2 separate regions of the Homo sapiens genome follow, and region 2 is linked to region 1. A link means that fine-mapping ties the variant in region 1 to the expression of a gene that starts in the linked region. Tissue or cell type: cerebellar hemisphere. Region 1 holds a variant in brackets; the other region holds the start of a gene. All regions are shown on one strand. Distances are from middle to middle.

What was found. PIP is the estimated chance that this variant, and not a neighbour inherited with it, causes the effect.
Region 2: it holds the start of ANKS1B, and the variant in region 1 is fine-mapped to the expression of ANKS1B in cerebellar hemisphere (GTEx, PIP above 0.99).

The regions. Positions count from the first base shown.
Region 1 is chr12:99,413,845-99,421,952 of GRCh38, forward strand. All of the region lies in intron 11 of ANKS1B (ankyrin repeat and sterile alpha motif domain containing 1B), which reads right to left. Among named protein-coding and RNA genes, the nearest start is that of GARIN6, 230 kb to the right of the region's middle. The variant G/A (reference allele first, on the strand shown) is at 3,632.
Region 2 is chr12:99,980,667-99,988,774 of GRCh38, forward strand. It overlaps ANKS1B (ankyrin repeat and sterile alpha motif domain containing 1B), which reads right to left and starts at 4,270. Exons shown (of 27, transcript NM_001352186.2): 1 at 3,438-4,270. The coding sequence starts at 3,571. RefSeq lists an enhancer at 3,300-4,130 and a silencer at 4,243-4,292.

The DNA.
Region 1 (8,108 bases):
CAGCTCTTCTCCTGCTAGCTGTTGATGTTCTCTTCCTCTCTGCCAGCTCCATAACAAGGGCCCTCACCCGGTGCACCACCCTCGCCCACACACACACCCTGACCGAGGCCCTGAGAGTTCCAGGTTCCTGCACCTGCCTTTCCTGCCCAGGGCTTTTTGAGAACAGACAGTTGCTCTCAAGCCCAGGGCTTTCTGAGAGCAGACAGTTGCTCTTGAGCCCTTCTCTGAGGTCCTCTGAACACCCCTACTCCACCATCAATCAGAGCAGTTATACTTTTTTTTTTTGCTTTTACCTATTAGGTTTCTGTTAGGTTGAAACATATGAAACTGCTGATATTCAACCGTATTACCTGCAAAAATAGCAATTTCATATAACTCAGCCTACATAAACTTTTCTTTTAACAGAGTTCTCTGGCTAAATAATTTGAAAACCATTTCTCTAGGCCTTAAGTGAGCCTGACATTTTGCTGGCCCCAGTAAAATTGAACTCTTTCCCTTCTTAGACATCACTAGTAAGAGTATAAAGACACATGCACATGTATGTTTATTGCAGCACTATTCACAATAGCAAAGACTTGGAACCAACCCAAATGTCCATCAATAATAGACTGGATAAAGAAAATGTGGCACAGATACACCATGGAATACTATGCAGCCATAAAAAGGATGAGTTCATGTCCTTTGCAGGGACATGGATGAAGCTGGAAACCATCATTCTCAGCAAACTAACACAGGAACAGAAAACCAAACACCACATGTTCTCACTCATAAATGGGAGTTGAACAATTAGAACACGTGGACACAGGGAGGGAAACATCACACACTGGGGCCTGTCCAGGGGGTGAGGGGTTAGGGGAAGGATAGCATTAGGAGAAATACCTAACGTAAATGATGTGTTGATGGGTGCAACAAACCACCATAGCACATGTATACCTATGTAACAAACCTGCGCGTTCTGCACATGTATTCCAGAGAGTATAAATGGGTATATGCCCTTTTCAGGGCAACTTGTCAAAATAGATTTTTTAAAAGTGTTAAGTCTATCCCTAGTATTTAACATACATAAGCATGAGTGTGGAGTTTGTTAGATGGAAAATTTGTAATATATGTTTCTTCGTATGAGTTAGTTTCTTCATACAATGTATTCAAATCTTCATTGGAAAGACTGTATACACACATGAGAGGATAATAAAAGTTCTAGTTTTTATTCTAGTTTTATTTAATAAAGGTCAAAAGTAGTTTTGGACTCAATGTAGATATTAAAGACCTGAAAAGCATTTTGACCTCCAAACCATGGAGTTTGTCCTCATAGAAGCTTTCCCAGCATGAAAATAGTCACAACTATTTTGCAAAAAATACTTTTTGACTTAGGTATTGCAAATACTTATATATTAATATTTTATAGATGTTCATGTCAACTTCAAATGCATCCAGAATTTAAAATAAGTAAAACCAGCTTTATTTTCCACACTTAAGTTCTTTTTTTAAAGCAACAATTTCAAGTGATTTGTTTCATCTTAGGAACAGCAGGAAATAATTATGCAATGGATTATAGAAGATATATTCTGAACAGCTAAAATAGGAAGCACATATCACTGTGTGGGTGAAAGAAAGACATTTTTACAAATAAAGGTGCACACTGCTTTTTAAATAGCTTAATTTTTTAATTAAATTTTTTATTTTCAATAATTGTAGATTCATATGCCATTGTGAGAAATCATAGAGTGCACTCATGTTTCTTTTTCCTAGATTCCCTCAGTGGGCACATCTCACAAAATTATAGTGCAACATCGTAAAAAGGACAAGAAACAGAGCAATTCCATCACCACGAGGATCCCTCCCATTGCCCTTTTTTTTGAGAGGGAGTCTCGCTCTGCCGCCCAGGCTGGAGTGTAGTGGTGAGATCTCGGCTCACGGCAAGCTCCGCCTCCCAGGTTCACGCCATTTTCCTGCCTCAGCCTCCTAAGTAGCTGGGACTACAGGCGCCCGCCACCACGCCCGGCTAATTTTTTGTATTTTTAGTAGAGACGGGGTTTCACTGTGTTAGCCAGGATGGTCTCAATCTCCTGACCTCGTGATCCACCCACCTTGGCCTCCTAAAGTGCTGGAATTACAGGCGTGAACCACCGCGCCAGGCCCCATTGCCCTTTTATAGCTACACTCACTTCTCTCCTGCCCCCACCTCCACCTTAACTCCTGGTAACTACCGATCTGTTATCCAGTTCTACAATTTTGTCACATTAATAATGCTATATTAATAGGATCACACAGTATGTAACCTTTTAGGACTGGCTTTTCTCACTCAGCATACTTTTCTGCAGATTCATCCAAGCTGTTGTGTGTATCAATAGCTTGCTCCATTTTATTGCTGGATAGTATTCAATGACATGGATGTTTAACCATTCACCCAATGAAGGACATCTGGGTTGTTTCCAGTTTTTAGCTGTTATGAATAATGCTGCTATAAATATTTGTGTACAGATTTTTCAGTGAACATGTTTTCATTTATCTGGGATAAATTCCCAGAAGTACAAATGCTGGTTGGTATGGCAGTTCAATGTTTAATGTTTTAAGAAACTGCCAAACTGTTTTCCAAAATTGCTGTACAATTTTACATTTCCACCAGCAATCTATGAGCTTCTCTGTATCCTTGCCAGCATTTAGTGTTGTCACAATTTTTTATTTTAGCCCTTCTGATAGGTGTGTAGTGATATCTCATTGTGGTTTTACTTTGCGTCTCCCTTGTGGATAATGATGTTGAATATCTTTTCTTGTGCTTATTTGCTGCCATCTACATATCCTCTGCAGTAAAACGTCTCTTCATGTCTTCTGCCCATTTTCTAATTGGATTATTTTTATACTATTGAGTTTTGAGAGTGCTTTATAAGTTCTAGATATTATTCTTTGTTAGATATGTGATTTATAAATATTTTCTCCAGTATGTACCTTGTCTTCTCATCTTCTTAATAGGGTTTTTCACAGAGCAAAAGTTTTTAACTTTAATGAAGTACATTTTTTTTTAACCAGAGGTGCTAGTCACACCTTATTCTTTGATAGAGCATAAACAGAGGTGGGGAGGGAGACAGTGCAAAGGGAGAAGGGCAGGCTCTTGAGAGCGAGGTTACTGGCATGCAGTCAGGCCCCCTCTGATTTGGGGACTATCACTTCTTAAACACGTGCTCTGTGGCCGTTGCCATGCCAAGCTCATTTATATTTGGGAGGAAGGAGAGGATCAGGACAATTTATTTTTTTATGGATTATGTCTTTGGTATCAAGTATAAGAACTCTTTGTCTAACTCTAGATCCCAGAAATTTTTTTCCTATTTTTTTCTAAAAGTTTTATAGTTCTATATTTTAAGTCAATTATCCATTTTGAATTAATTTTTACATAAGCCATATGACTTAGGTCAAGTTTCAACTTGTGGCCTGTGTATGTCCAACTGCTCCAGCACCAGGCTATCTTCCCTCCACTGAACTGCTTTTGTACCTTTGTCAAATAGCAGTCAGGTTTATGTGTATGGGTATATTTCTGGGTTCTCTCTTCTGTCCTATTGATCTAAGTGTCTATCCCTTCACTGATAATACTACATTGTCTTAAGTACTGTAGCTATAAAATAAATCTTGAAACTGG[G/A]TAGACTGATTCCTCCCACTTTTTTCTTCTCTTTCGATTTTTTTTTAGTTATCCTAGTTACTTTACGTATCTATGCAAATATTAGAATAATCTTATATTTACAAAAAAGTGTTGCTGTGACTTTGATAGGAATTATGTTAAATCTAAATATCAATTTGGAACAATTTACATCTTTGCTACACTGAGTCTTCTAATCCATAAACAGGTATGTCTTTCCACTTCTTTGAACATTTTTTTTCATCAGTGTTTTGTAGTTTTCAGTATACAAGACCTGTACATGTTAAAGAGGAGTTCACCGAGGCTCATAATCAAACTATCAAAAATTAAAGACGAAGAAAAAATTCTGAAAGCAGCAAGAAGTAAGAAACATATCACATACAAAGAAGTCCAATGTAACTATCAGTGGATTTATCAGGAAAAACCCTGCAGGCTAGGAAAGGGGTAGGATGATATCTTCAAACTGCTAAATGAAAACAAATTGCCAACCAAGAATACTTAAATCAGTTAAGCTGTCCTTCAGAAATGAGAGAGAAATAGTAACTTTCCCAAACAAAAGCTAAGGGAGTTCATTATCACTGGGCCTGTTTCACAGAAATTACTAAAGGGAGTTCTTTAAGCTGTATCAAAAGGCCACTAATTAATAACATAAAACATGCAAAAGCACAACACTCAATGGTATAAGCATTACAGAATCACATTCAGAATACTCTGGACAAAAATGTTGGTATGCAAAGCAATTTTATCTCTAGTACAATGGTTAATAGACATCTATTAAAACAACTATAAATAAAATAATCAGGGGATACAAATTACAAAATGATGTAAATTTTGACATCCAAAACATAAAATGAGGGATTTGGATAAAAGTGTTAGATTTATATCTAATTATTATTTTTTCTTTTTGTATTTGTGATTATAAATGACCTTGTATTTTTAATTTCTGTGTATATATGTTCATAACTAGTTCACAGAAATACAATTTTTTTATGTGTATCTTGCATCCCGTGACCTTGTTGAGCTCACTTATTAGTCACAGGAGTGCTGTTTTTGTTTTGTTTTGTTTTGTTTTTTAGCTTGCTTCGGATTTCTACGAAGACAATCATGTCATCTGCAAATAGGAAGTTTCAGTTTTCCTTTCCAAATCTGTATGCCTTTTATTTTTTTGTTTTTCTTCTTGGCACAGGTTAGAGCTTCCAGCACTATGTTGAGTGACAGTGGTGAGCACAGTGGACATCCTTGCTTTGTTCCTAATCTTAGAAAGAAAGTCTTCATGTTTTTACCATTAAGTATAATGTTAGCTGTAGATTTTTTATAGATGCTCTTCATCAAGTTGAGAAAATTCCCCTCAATTTCTATTCTTTTAAGAGGTCTTAAAAAACAAAACAACATGAATGGGTGTTGAATTTTGTTGAATGCTTTCTGTGTATCAATTAATATCATTATGTGGATTTTCTTCTTTATTGATTTCAAATATTGAATGAGTTATGCATCCCTAAAATAAACCTCACTTTGTAATTGTATATAATTTTAAAAATACATTTCTGAATACTATTTGCTAATATTTTGTTAGGAATTTTTTGTCTATATTCATGAGGAATATTGCTCTGGGGTGTGGGTGTATGTGGAATTGGGAATACTAGGTCATAAAATGAATTAGAAAACATTCCCCCATTTTCTTTTTTCAAGACAAGATTGTTTAGAGTTAGTGTTAATTCTTCTTTAAATGTTGTTATAATTCTCCAACAAAACAATGTGAGCTTGGAGATTTATTTTTTGAAAGCTTTTTTGATTATGAATTCCATTTCATTAATAGTTGTAGGGCTATTCACATTATGTATTACATATTGGGTAAATTGTGGTAGTTTGTTTTAATAATTGATCCATTTTAGCTAAGTTGTCAAATTTATGTATGTAGAATAGTTTGTAATATTCCTTTATTATCCTTTTGATGTCTTCAGGGTCTGTAGTGACATCCCTATTTTATTCCTGATATAGGTAATTTGTGTCTTTCTTTTTTCTCTCAGTTTCACTTTAAGAACAGTAGGAAATAACAATATAATGATTTACAGAAGATATGTTCCTAGCAGCCAAAATATTAATAAAAGCTTATATTGCTGTATACGTGAAAGAAAATTTTTACAAATAAGAGTGGGCATTGCTTTTGGTTTTTAACTTCTCAAAGGTCATTCTGCTTTCTAATTCTTGTTTTTAGAGATAGGGTCTCACTCTATCCCCCAGGCTAGAGTCCAGTGGTAAAATCATATCTTACTGCAGCCTCAATCTCCTGGGCTCAAGCGATCCTCCCACCTTAGCCCCCTGAGTAGTTAGCAATACAGGCACACACCACCGTGTCCAACTAATTTTTTAAAACTCTTTGTAGATATATGGTCTGGCTATGTTGCCAGGTTGGTCTCAAATTCCTGGCCTCAAGTGATGTTCCTGTCTTGACCTCCCAAAATGCTGGGATTTCAGGCATGAGCCAGCACACCCAGCCTGCTTTCTAATTCTTAAGTCATCTCTTTACTATTATAGTAATAGTGCCCATGAAATACATTCTGTTTCAGGTATCCTACCTTTTTTTCATCTAAATCCTACAAAAACTCCACAGATGGGCAGACAGGGAAACTGAGTGTCAAAGATACTCAGTAACTATTGGACAGCTTTAGAATCCAGCTCTCTCAACACTTAAAAGCCATGAATACACTTTCCATTACATCATTCTGTCTTTTTGCTATAATTACCCAAAATGTCTTCCTATACAATAAAAATAACAGAACTTTTTTAGCTTAATGATAGTTTAAAAGAATATTTTCCCCAGAGTATCTGTAAAAGCATTTACCACGAGGGTTATCACAAAGTAATAAATATGTTAGTAGGTAGAATAAAGTTAAGGTTTAAACCAGAAAGATGTGACAATATAAGTACTTCTGTGAATAAATTTAAGATGGTGTGAAGTTTTAAGAATAAGCACATAGCACTTCCCCTGGAGTAAAATATAATCAGGGTCATAAAAATTTGTGTCATAATATGATAGCAATAAGTTTTAAAGTGAAGATAAGTATTACAATTAATTTTAGCTAACAAGTTCAACTCCTTTTCTGCTATTTTTCTAAAACAGTTATAAAAATGCCCATTAATAAAAGTTTGTCTTTTTTTCCTGACTCATTCCTGGCAAAGGAATATTCAAAAGGTTGATATGAAGGGGTATAAGTATATAAAGCAAGTGTTAAAAAATACATAAACTCAGTAATAAGCTTCTAAATAATCAAGAATTGTTATGATTTGTATGTAAATTTCATTTGGATTTCCCTCAAGGAAACAAAATCATTAAGTTCTGAAATAGTCTCTAATTCTAAAACTCCTTTCTTCATCTTCATATCAATGAAAAAATTGGTATCCTCAATTAAAAAGTACCTTTATGTTTCTAACTAATTCCTATGGGTTAAACTTATTAACACATATTTGGGAGACAAAATAGGATTTGCAGCAAAGTAGAATTGGATTCAGATCCTAATGTCGGTATTTACAGTTTAGTATTTGCATTCACAAAATGAGGATTATATAAGCCTCCCCACAGAATTATTGTCTGGATTAATTGAGATAATGTAAATGAAAGACTAGAATAAGGCCTAAATTAGTAAAGGATTGATAAGTATTCATCTTCTTCTCCCACTGTAATATTTTAGTATAAGTAGGATCTAACTGAAAGAAGACATTGATGAGTTAAATCATAAGGCAGCCCTCCTAATAAATGGCAGAATCACCAAATTACATGAACAGTCCAGCAGAATCTCCCTGACACAATTTACAGAGGTGAAGGTTGAAGGAAAAGAGGAAATCAATAGGTTCGGAAGAAAATACAGCACACAGACTTATTTTATCAGTGTTTAAGAGAGCTGCCCTGGAAATTGCAGTAAGAGCTCTAAGTAGAAACCTTCCGGGGGCGTCTCTGATGGGAAATAAGTGGCAGAGACCCTGGTAGAACCTCTCTAAATAGCCCACCATCTCTGATTTGGAGGAGTGAGGGCTCATGGCAATGAGGGACCACAAAGAAGGGGGAAAAAGAAGAGAAGATACACTCCAATTAATCACAATAAGCCTTTTTAGAAAGCATGGCATTAGGAGGTTAAAGAGCCCCTGTGGTGACTTGTTTACAGGAGCAGAAAGTTAAGAGGCTGTTAGGAGCTTGAAGAGGAAACATCAGACTTCAGCTTCTGAGAAAGAAGTTAGTCATTAGACATATTTTGCTTTAGAAACAAACCCAAGTGATATAGTTTGAATATATGTCCCCATCAAATCTCACACTGAACTGTAATCCTCAGTGTTGGAGGTGGGGCTTGGTGGGAGGTGACTGGGTCAATGGGGCAAATCCTTCATGTCTTGGTGCTGTCCTCGTGGCAATGTTTTCACAAGATCTGGTTGTTTAAGTGTGTGGCACCTCCCCACCAACCCCACTCTCTCTCTTGCTCCTGCTTTT
Region 2 (8,108 bases), 570 kb after region 1:
AAGTTCTTAACATCTATGCTGTCTTGCCATATAAAAGGTTAACAGAGATGATAGCTCTTCCATGAAAAATACTTATAAGAAAACAAAAATACATGCATCTAAAGAACTATCCTGCAGATGAATTAGACTGCTTTATATTGACCCATACAGCCAATCTACTACCAATTGCTGAAAGTCACAGGGAAGTGGATTTTAGCTCAATGAAAAGAAAAATTTTAAAATAATTACAGCTGTCAAAAATAGAATGAATCTAGTCATTGGAAGGTTTAACAGGGCTGGAATAACTAACAGGTAAGAAATGTTACAGAGAAAATTTCCGCACTAGGTGAGAAGTTGGAAGAAAGTTCCCTCCTTATTTGACGATTCTATGATTGCTATGGGAAATTTACTCCCAGTCCAATAGGAAGCAAATCTTTAGTCATTAAGGCCTTAAAGAATACAGTCAAGTGCTTTAGAGGTGCATGAAAAATATTAACACTAACGATGAACACCTATATGCTAAATGTTTTGCATTCATTACTTTATACTTCATTTAATCCTTATAATGATCTTATATGATAGGTACTATTATTACTATTTCCACTCTGATAGAATAGTGAGGCTTAGAGAGGTTTTTAAATTTATTCAATGGCATTCTTACATTTGCTGAAAATTGCAGTGCCACCCAAAAGCATACCTGATTCCCCATTACATAGTTACTGTTGAAAGGATAATTTCTTATTACCAGTAGATAACAAGTAATCAGAAGCATCTTCAGAAAAGTTCTTGTCTAGTGAACCCTCAAAGGGCAGTTGTGAGATTTTTTTAATTAGAAAAAAATACCAAAATTTAAGGAATTTCAAATTATTCTTCATAGCAAAAAATGTTCAGATTGGCCTGTCTAAATTGGCCACATACCTTTAAACTTTTGTGAATAAAACAGATTCAATGAATGAGACTTAAAATGTTGTAAAACAAATCTGAATCACAGATTTTCAAATCTTTGCCATTATTAATTAAGTGACCATGGGCAAGTCCTTAATCTTATCTTTTTATTCCTTCATCTGTGAAATGACAATGGACCTCCTAAGGCTGACACAAGAATTGAATGAGATGACACGTGTAAGCACTTAGCATAGGGTCTGACACCATTATTACACAACCCAGGTAATAAAGCAAGCGGGGAAAAAGTGCCAAACATATTCTACAGTTCCTTCTAAAACATTAAGAAATTTCAAAGTGTCATTATGTTTGACGGGGGACACATTTTCCATTATCCTGCCAATAAATTTCTGATGACAATCATTTTTGAAATAAAGTGACAACTAAATAAAATGTGCCTTCTTAGGAATGTCATTTTATGCAAATGATTGCCCAAAGAATACAATTTCAACTCTCATTTTCTTCAGACACTATTCAGTATAAGATGGATAAAAGCAAGTTTAAAGGTTATTGGTTTTGTTTGTGATTTTTACAACTTGGTTCGAAGTACTCTAATAAACACATGTTGTTTACTTTTGTTTTCTATGTGCAATCTTTGTTGTAGAGCTACTACTACTACTACTACACCAGCAAAAGAGAAAACCTCTCACTCAAGATATACACTGTGGGTCACTATTTTGATACTTTAGTGTCCACTAACATTAAATACTTGGTGTTTTATCCCTAAAACTTGACATCTATTCTTTAAAAAAAAAAAAAAAAATCACAGCTGGGAAAGGAGTATTTAAAGGATGTTTGCTTTTGAGTTTTGTCACAAGGAGTGTTTTTAAAATACGATTTATCACAATAAAATTAAGTGAAATTCTCACTGTTCTCAAATAATTCCTCATGTTTTCCCGAAGAAATTGTTTATTTTGAGAAAATTCTTTCAGCATACCAGTTTTTAGACATAATCATTTTTATAACTGATGGATCCACAGCAAACGTTGTTATTTTACGTGTAACTTAAAACTGTAAAGAGATAAATTGCTTTCACATAAACTACATGTGACTACAGGCAATTATTAGAGCTGCAATCTGAAATATGCACACATTGTCTACCTGTGTTTGAAAGAGAAGATTATTTAACAAGGGAGTACACACAAGTCATCTCTATGACCTATTGAAAAAATGTCCCATAAATATTCATTCTTCTGACATGAACTATCATTCCAATAAAATGTCACTGTCAACGAGTATATAGAATAACATATGGGGCTTTTTAAAATCCCATCGACTATTTTTCAACTCAATTTATTTCACTGTAATAGAAACTTTCCATTTTCCCTTTTAGCTAGCCCTATAATTAATTGCACTGTCTGACCACCACAACCTATGAGAACTTGTGTAAAGAACGCAATGTCATCACCCAAAAGTTTCTATTAAGCACTTGTCAAGGGTAGCATGGAACAGTTTTTAAAAAACCAGGGAAATCACTTGGGCTTTCTAAAATTTTTACAACTATAGTTGGGTTATCCAAGAGATGTTTTAAGGCGAAGATATGAATGACAATTGATGACTCCAAAAATACCCAGGATAAATTGGATAGCCACGATTTTAGAAACTAAAGAGCTTCCCTTGAATTGTATCTAGTGAATACTCTCCAGGCTTCCTCCCTCCCAGTTGATTTCATTTGTCCATCAATACAACTTTTAATAGTTTCTCAAGTATGGAAATCAACCCCGCTATTTCCAAGGTACTGCTGAATGAAGACCTTGACATTTTTTTTAAATGTCATCTTAGAAAGATTCTCCAAGCAATACCAGTCTCACCTACGACATCTTCACGTTAAAAGGCCTCTACCGTACTCCATATACAGTATCCCAATACCAACCTGGCATCCTTCATCCTGAGCTATAACAACCAAGTTTCACTCAGCTATGTCCAGGTAACTGAAAGTATTGCTGGGGCTGCCTAACCTGCCCCATCAAGTTTTATACACACCCTGTGCTGAAGACATCTCACCAGAAAGAAGGTTCACTCACTTCATTTTGTGGGATCATAACCCACGGCACAGCAAACGCCTTCTGCAAGAGAAGGTAGGAGCCACCGAAGGCTGTGGCTTTTGCAGGGTAATTGCATGCACGCAAGAGATTCTCTGCCAATTTCATTTAACTAGACAAAAAAGGCTGCGTTCAAAGCTGCAAATATGTAATAAATGTTGATGGAAAGCGGGCGGAACGTCGATTTTCTTCAAGCAACACTAGTACATGTACAAGTTCTGCACCAGGGCTCAGAGGAAAAGTAGCTTACTGACGCATTGATGGAAGGCTATTTTAAAATTACTCAAAGAATCTAAGGCATCAATCTGACTGGGAGGCTCATACCTCCTCTCCATACACGCAGTCTGTTTTCCTACCTAATTTAAGAATGAATCGCTGGCAGCCACCAGGTGCAATAACCGTGAGGAGGAGGACGTATATCCATCACAATGCATAATGAGGTGTGCCAACCCCGGAGCTGGTGCCCGTCCTTACCTTAGCAGATTAGACAGGGGCAGGGGTCCGGATCCACCGCCCAGGATCCCTCCTTTCCTGCCAGACAGGAGTTTCTCCACCAGAGCCACATTTCCAGTGCGAGCAGCTTCCAGCAGCTCCTGGTCCTTCCCCATAGTCTCTCACCGACTCCCCCACAGAGTCCTTGCCCCCCTCGGGTCCTCCTCCCCACCCACCCCCACTCCCCAAAATCCAGGGCCCTCTTCGCCCCACCCTAAAATAATGCAAGAGCTTCAGCACGGAGAGCTCCCTGCAGCCCCAGGCAGGGAGCACGACTCTCTCCTCCTCTTCGGGGCGCAGCTTTTACAATGGGGATCAGACCATGTCTTGAAAGAGGGGCTGGCCGAGCTGGGAGCCGCGACGCGCCCCCACAGCCACTCCCCTGAATTCCCAAGGCCTCGTTCCCGCGGGTGCGGCGTGAGGGGGTGGGGACTCGGGGGTGCTTTTGAGGAGCGGGAGGAGGGTGGTGAGGACTGAGGTCGGAGGAGGAGGAGGAGGCGGCAGAGAGAGTCCTAGCTGGAGCGGGAGCGCAGGGAACACCCGCGGTGGCAGCAGCGGCCCGCGCGCCCTCGCGCCCGACCCGGGCTCGCCTCGGCTTCCTCGGCGGTTACGCGGGGGCGGCGTCCGCGGCGGGGAGGAGCGCGGCGGCGGCGGCGGCGGCTCGTGCGCTGTGGCCCGCGCCGAGGCAGGGCGGTGGGGGGCAGCCGCAGCGGGCGCGTGCCGAGGGCGGCGGCGGCGGCGAGGCCTGGCGCGCGGGGGGCGTGTGCGCGCGGGCAGGTGCGGCCCCTGGTGCGGCCCGAGTTGGGTGGCGGGCTGGCGGGGAGGGGCCGGGCCGGCTGAGGCGGGGCTTCGGCCCTGAGATTCTCTTCGTTCTCGTGGGCGGGGACCCTCCCTCCTCCACTCTCCTTGGAAGAGCGTTAACCGTGTGAGGACTGGAGTTCCCCGGGCCGCGTCGGCTCCTCCTCGGCCCGGCGGGCCCCGGCAACACGCCTCGGGTCTGTCACGACGCCTGAGGAAAATCCTCCGTGACAGGAATGGGGAGGCTGGTGACACTGGGGAGGGGCCCTTTGGCCACCGCTTCCATCAGAGTCTAGGCAACTTGACCGGCATTTCACCCTTCCGCTTTACCTCCCCAAGAGAGCCTGAGATCTGCCCTTGGTTAGAAAGAAGAGGCTCGTTTCGTCCTAGTTTCTGTGGCACTGGCCACCGAGCAGTTTGCGACTGTTTCAGTTTTTCTGGAGTCTTTAATCAGCCCATATTTTAGTTGGGCTTTGGAGATCTGCTGACTTGTAAGAATACCAGGAAAAAGGCTCTCATTGAAAATTTATCCACATCTACACTCGAAAAATATAAATGGGCATGGATTAGAGATCCACTTTAATTTGCATATATCATCAGCAATTCATTGTGCATGGTTGGCATGACTTGTTAGATGCTCTCCTTGGCCGTGGTGGAGAACGCGCGTTTATTTTCTATTAAAACTTCCTGTTACACCTTGTGCTTTGCATTGTCCTTGGAATAGACTTCATAAATGTTCACTTGTTGATAATTGATTGGTAAGAAGAGGACTTAATAGGCACTGTGCTTACAACAACCCAGTGAACTGGATATTATTATATCCATTTTAGAAATGAGGAAATAGGGCTCAAATGGTTAATTAAATTTCTCAAGATGCCACATGGAGTAAGTGGCTGACTCAGAACTAGACCCCAGAACAGACTCACTCCAGACACCATGTGCTTCCCAATATACGTTCCTGCCCCCCATGGAAAAGCGAAATGGACAGACAATAATTATTGCATGCATTTGATGAGTAGTTGCTACATACCAGACACTATGCTAAGTGCTTTCCATGTTCTCATTAAGCCTTGCAACAATCGCATGAGATAGGACCATTTTCATCTCTATTTTGGAGATGAAGAAACTGATTACCCGCAAGATAATAGGGATAGAAAGTAACTGAGCCAAGGCTCAAATCCGGCACTGTCTGCTGTAGGCAAAGATTTTCAATAAATAACTGGGGGAAACTTAAAAGGCATTTAGAGATAAATAACAAGAGTATATTAAAACATTTTTATGGAATTCATTGTGTTCTGAGATTTCATTTCAATGATTCAAAATATTAGGTAAATTATGGCTATTTATTGGAGGTTTCCTGAAGTATGTAGATTTTGGCTAGTGTAGTTTTTTAATTCATTTTGATTTTGTTTTCTGTGTTAGAATCTGTTTTAATAAGATAATCTATGTTATAATAATATAATCCCTGACATAATGGGACTAGCAGACCAATGAAAGAAACGAGATAAGGAGCCATCACATTCATTTTGAAAATGGCATAGGGAAATCCTTCTTCCTTTTTCCTAATGTTGCCACCTAAGCAAAACACACCTTTCCCAGAATATACTGTAAGTATTCAATTGGTCAGAACTGAAAATCACCCACAGTTTTCACAAGCAACATTTAATCATGGATGAGTTGGTGACCGCAGGCCCCGAGTCATCTTATCGAAATCATGCAGCCCCCACCCCCAATGGGAAAACCATTAGTAATGATTTACTCTAAGAATCAGTTCCACAGTTCGGGCATTCTACTGACATATGATAATCAAAGCCAATTTTTCAGCTTCAAACTCTTTGGTTTTAGTGACCTCATAACTTTGTTTTTCTGTAGACATTGCAGTGACTGCACCTCATAGTTTTTTGTTGAAGAGGATAAAGGCTTTGGCTACATGGGGACTAACATGCAAAATAAAAGTGAAAACATTCTTTTAAAAATCTACAGAGGCCAAAATAAATATCCAGATCTTTTAAACATCCAGATTTCATCAAGATGTTTTGCATCTGTGAATAGTGAAAAGAGTGATAGAATCTTGGGAACCAATTAGACAATCTCTATCTCAGTGTGTGCATAAGTAAAATGAAGAAGTTATGTCGGATGCCTTCCACTGGCCTTGCCAGCCATAATATTCTATGCCTGTGATGAAACGTGGTCTTAGTCCATTAAGTCATTTGCATCACTGAAGCTAGAAATTAAGTATGGAGATAGATTTGAGATTTCTATTCTGTTTTTATTTGATTTGATTTTCTGAGACAGAGTCTGACTCTGTTGCCAAGACTGGAGTGCAGTGGCACGATCTCAGCTCACTGCAACCTCTGCTCCCAGGTTCAAGTGATTCTCAAGCCTCAGCCTCCCCAGTAGCTGAGATTAGAGGCGCCCACCACCACGCCCGGCTAATTTTTGTATTTTTAGTAGAGACAGGATTTCACTATGTTGGTCAGGCTGGTCTCAAACTCCTGACCTCAAGTGATCCACCTGCCTCGGCCACCCTCTATTTTGTTTTTAATTATAAAATAAATATATATTTTTTCGGGTTTTTAAATCTATCTTTGCTATTCTCAATGGACAGTATTAATAATAGCAAATGTAGGCCGGGCATGGTGGCTCATGCCAGTAATCCCAGCACTTTTGGGAGGCCAAGGTGGGTGGATCATGAGGTCAGGAGATCGAGACCATCCTGGCTAACATGGAGAAACCCCATTTCTACTAAAAATACTAAAAATTAGCCGGGCATGGTGGCGGGCACCTGTAGTCCCAGCTACTCGGGAGGCTGAGCCAGGAGAATGGCGTAAGCCCAGGAGGTGGAGCTTGCAGTGAGTGGAGATCGCGCCACTGCACTTCAGCCTGGGCGACAGAGCAAGACTCTGTCTCAAAAATAAATAAATAAATAAAATAAAATAAAATAATAATAATAGTACATGTGTATTTTGTGCCAGGAATGATACTATACCCTTTACTTTCTCTCATTTTATTTAATTCTGAAGTAACACTGTAAGAAGATATTATAAGTCCTGCAGAATCTCTGAATCCCTTATATTTCAAATTCTGATATAAATCTACTTCTGGATACTTTTTGGCAAGAATTATTGCTCTAATATACACATACTGCAAGTCACTCTTCTAGGAGTTGATTAATAAAAGAAGGGACTAGGGGTTGAGATTAGAAGGGGGAAGTGAAGCAAATACCAGTTTTTGTATAGAAGTGTTTGCACACACACACAAAACTCTTTGGAAACATTAAAGAAATTGAAGGACCATGAATCCAGACCAATCTTAGAATTATATACCAAGGTCTGTTTTCAGTGAAGAAGAGAAAAAGATAATATCTTATAACATGAAGTTATCAACAGAGCTGAAATAAGAAGATAACCCTGTGATTTATGAAGTAGATTTACTTTCTCCATCTCAAGTTCTGAAGTTACTCTGCATCACTAGAACTATGAAGTCAACAGCTTCAGGTTACAGAATGTGAAAATACTAGACATCTGGATAGAAGAGCAGGTTCTTGCTTCCTGCATGACATTAAAGTTCTTCTCCACATGGCCACATGGCACAAACTCTGTCCCTCATCATCTTCCTGAGGGAACCCAAACACCAAGTGTATTATATTTACAATTTTTCTGAAGATTCATGGCCATGAATGTTGAAGGCCACAGAACACCAATCACCCATCTTCTCCAAGTTATAATTAGCTGAACGCAGACACAAGGAATCAAAGAGTATCTCATTAGCATATCATCTTTATTACGAGTCATATAAGGGTCTAATATCCCACAAAATCCCTGCTAAAACTACACTAAAAATGAGACGAGGGCC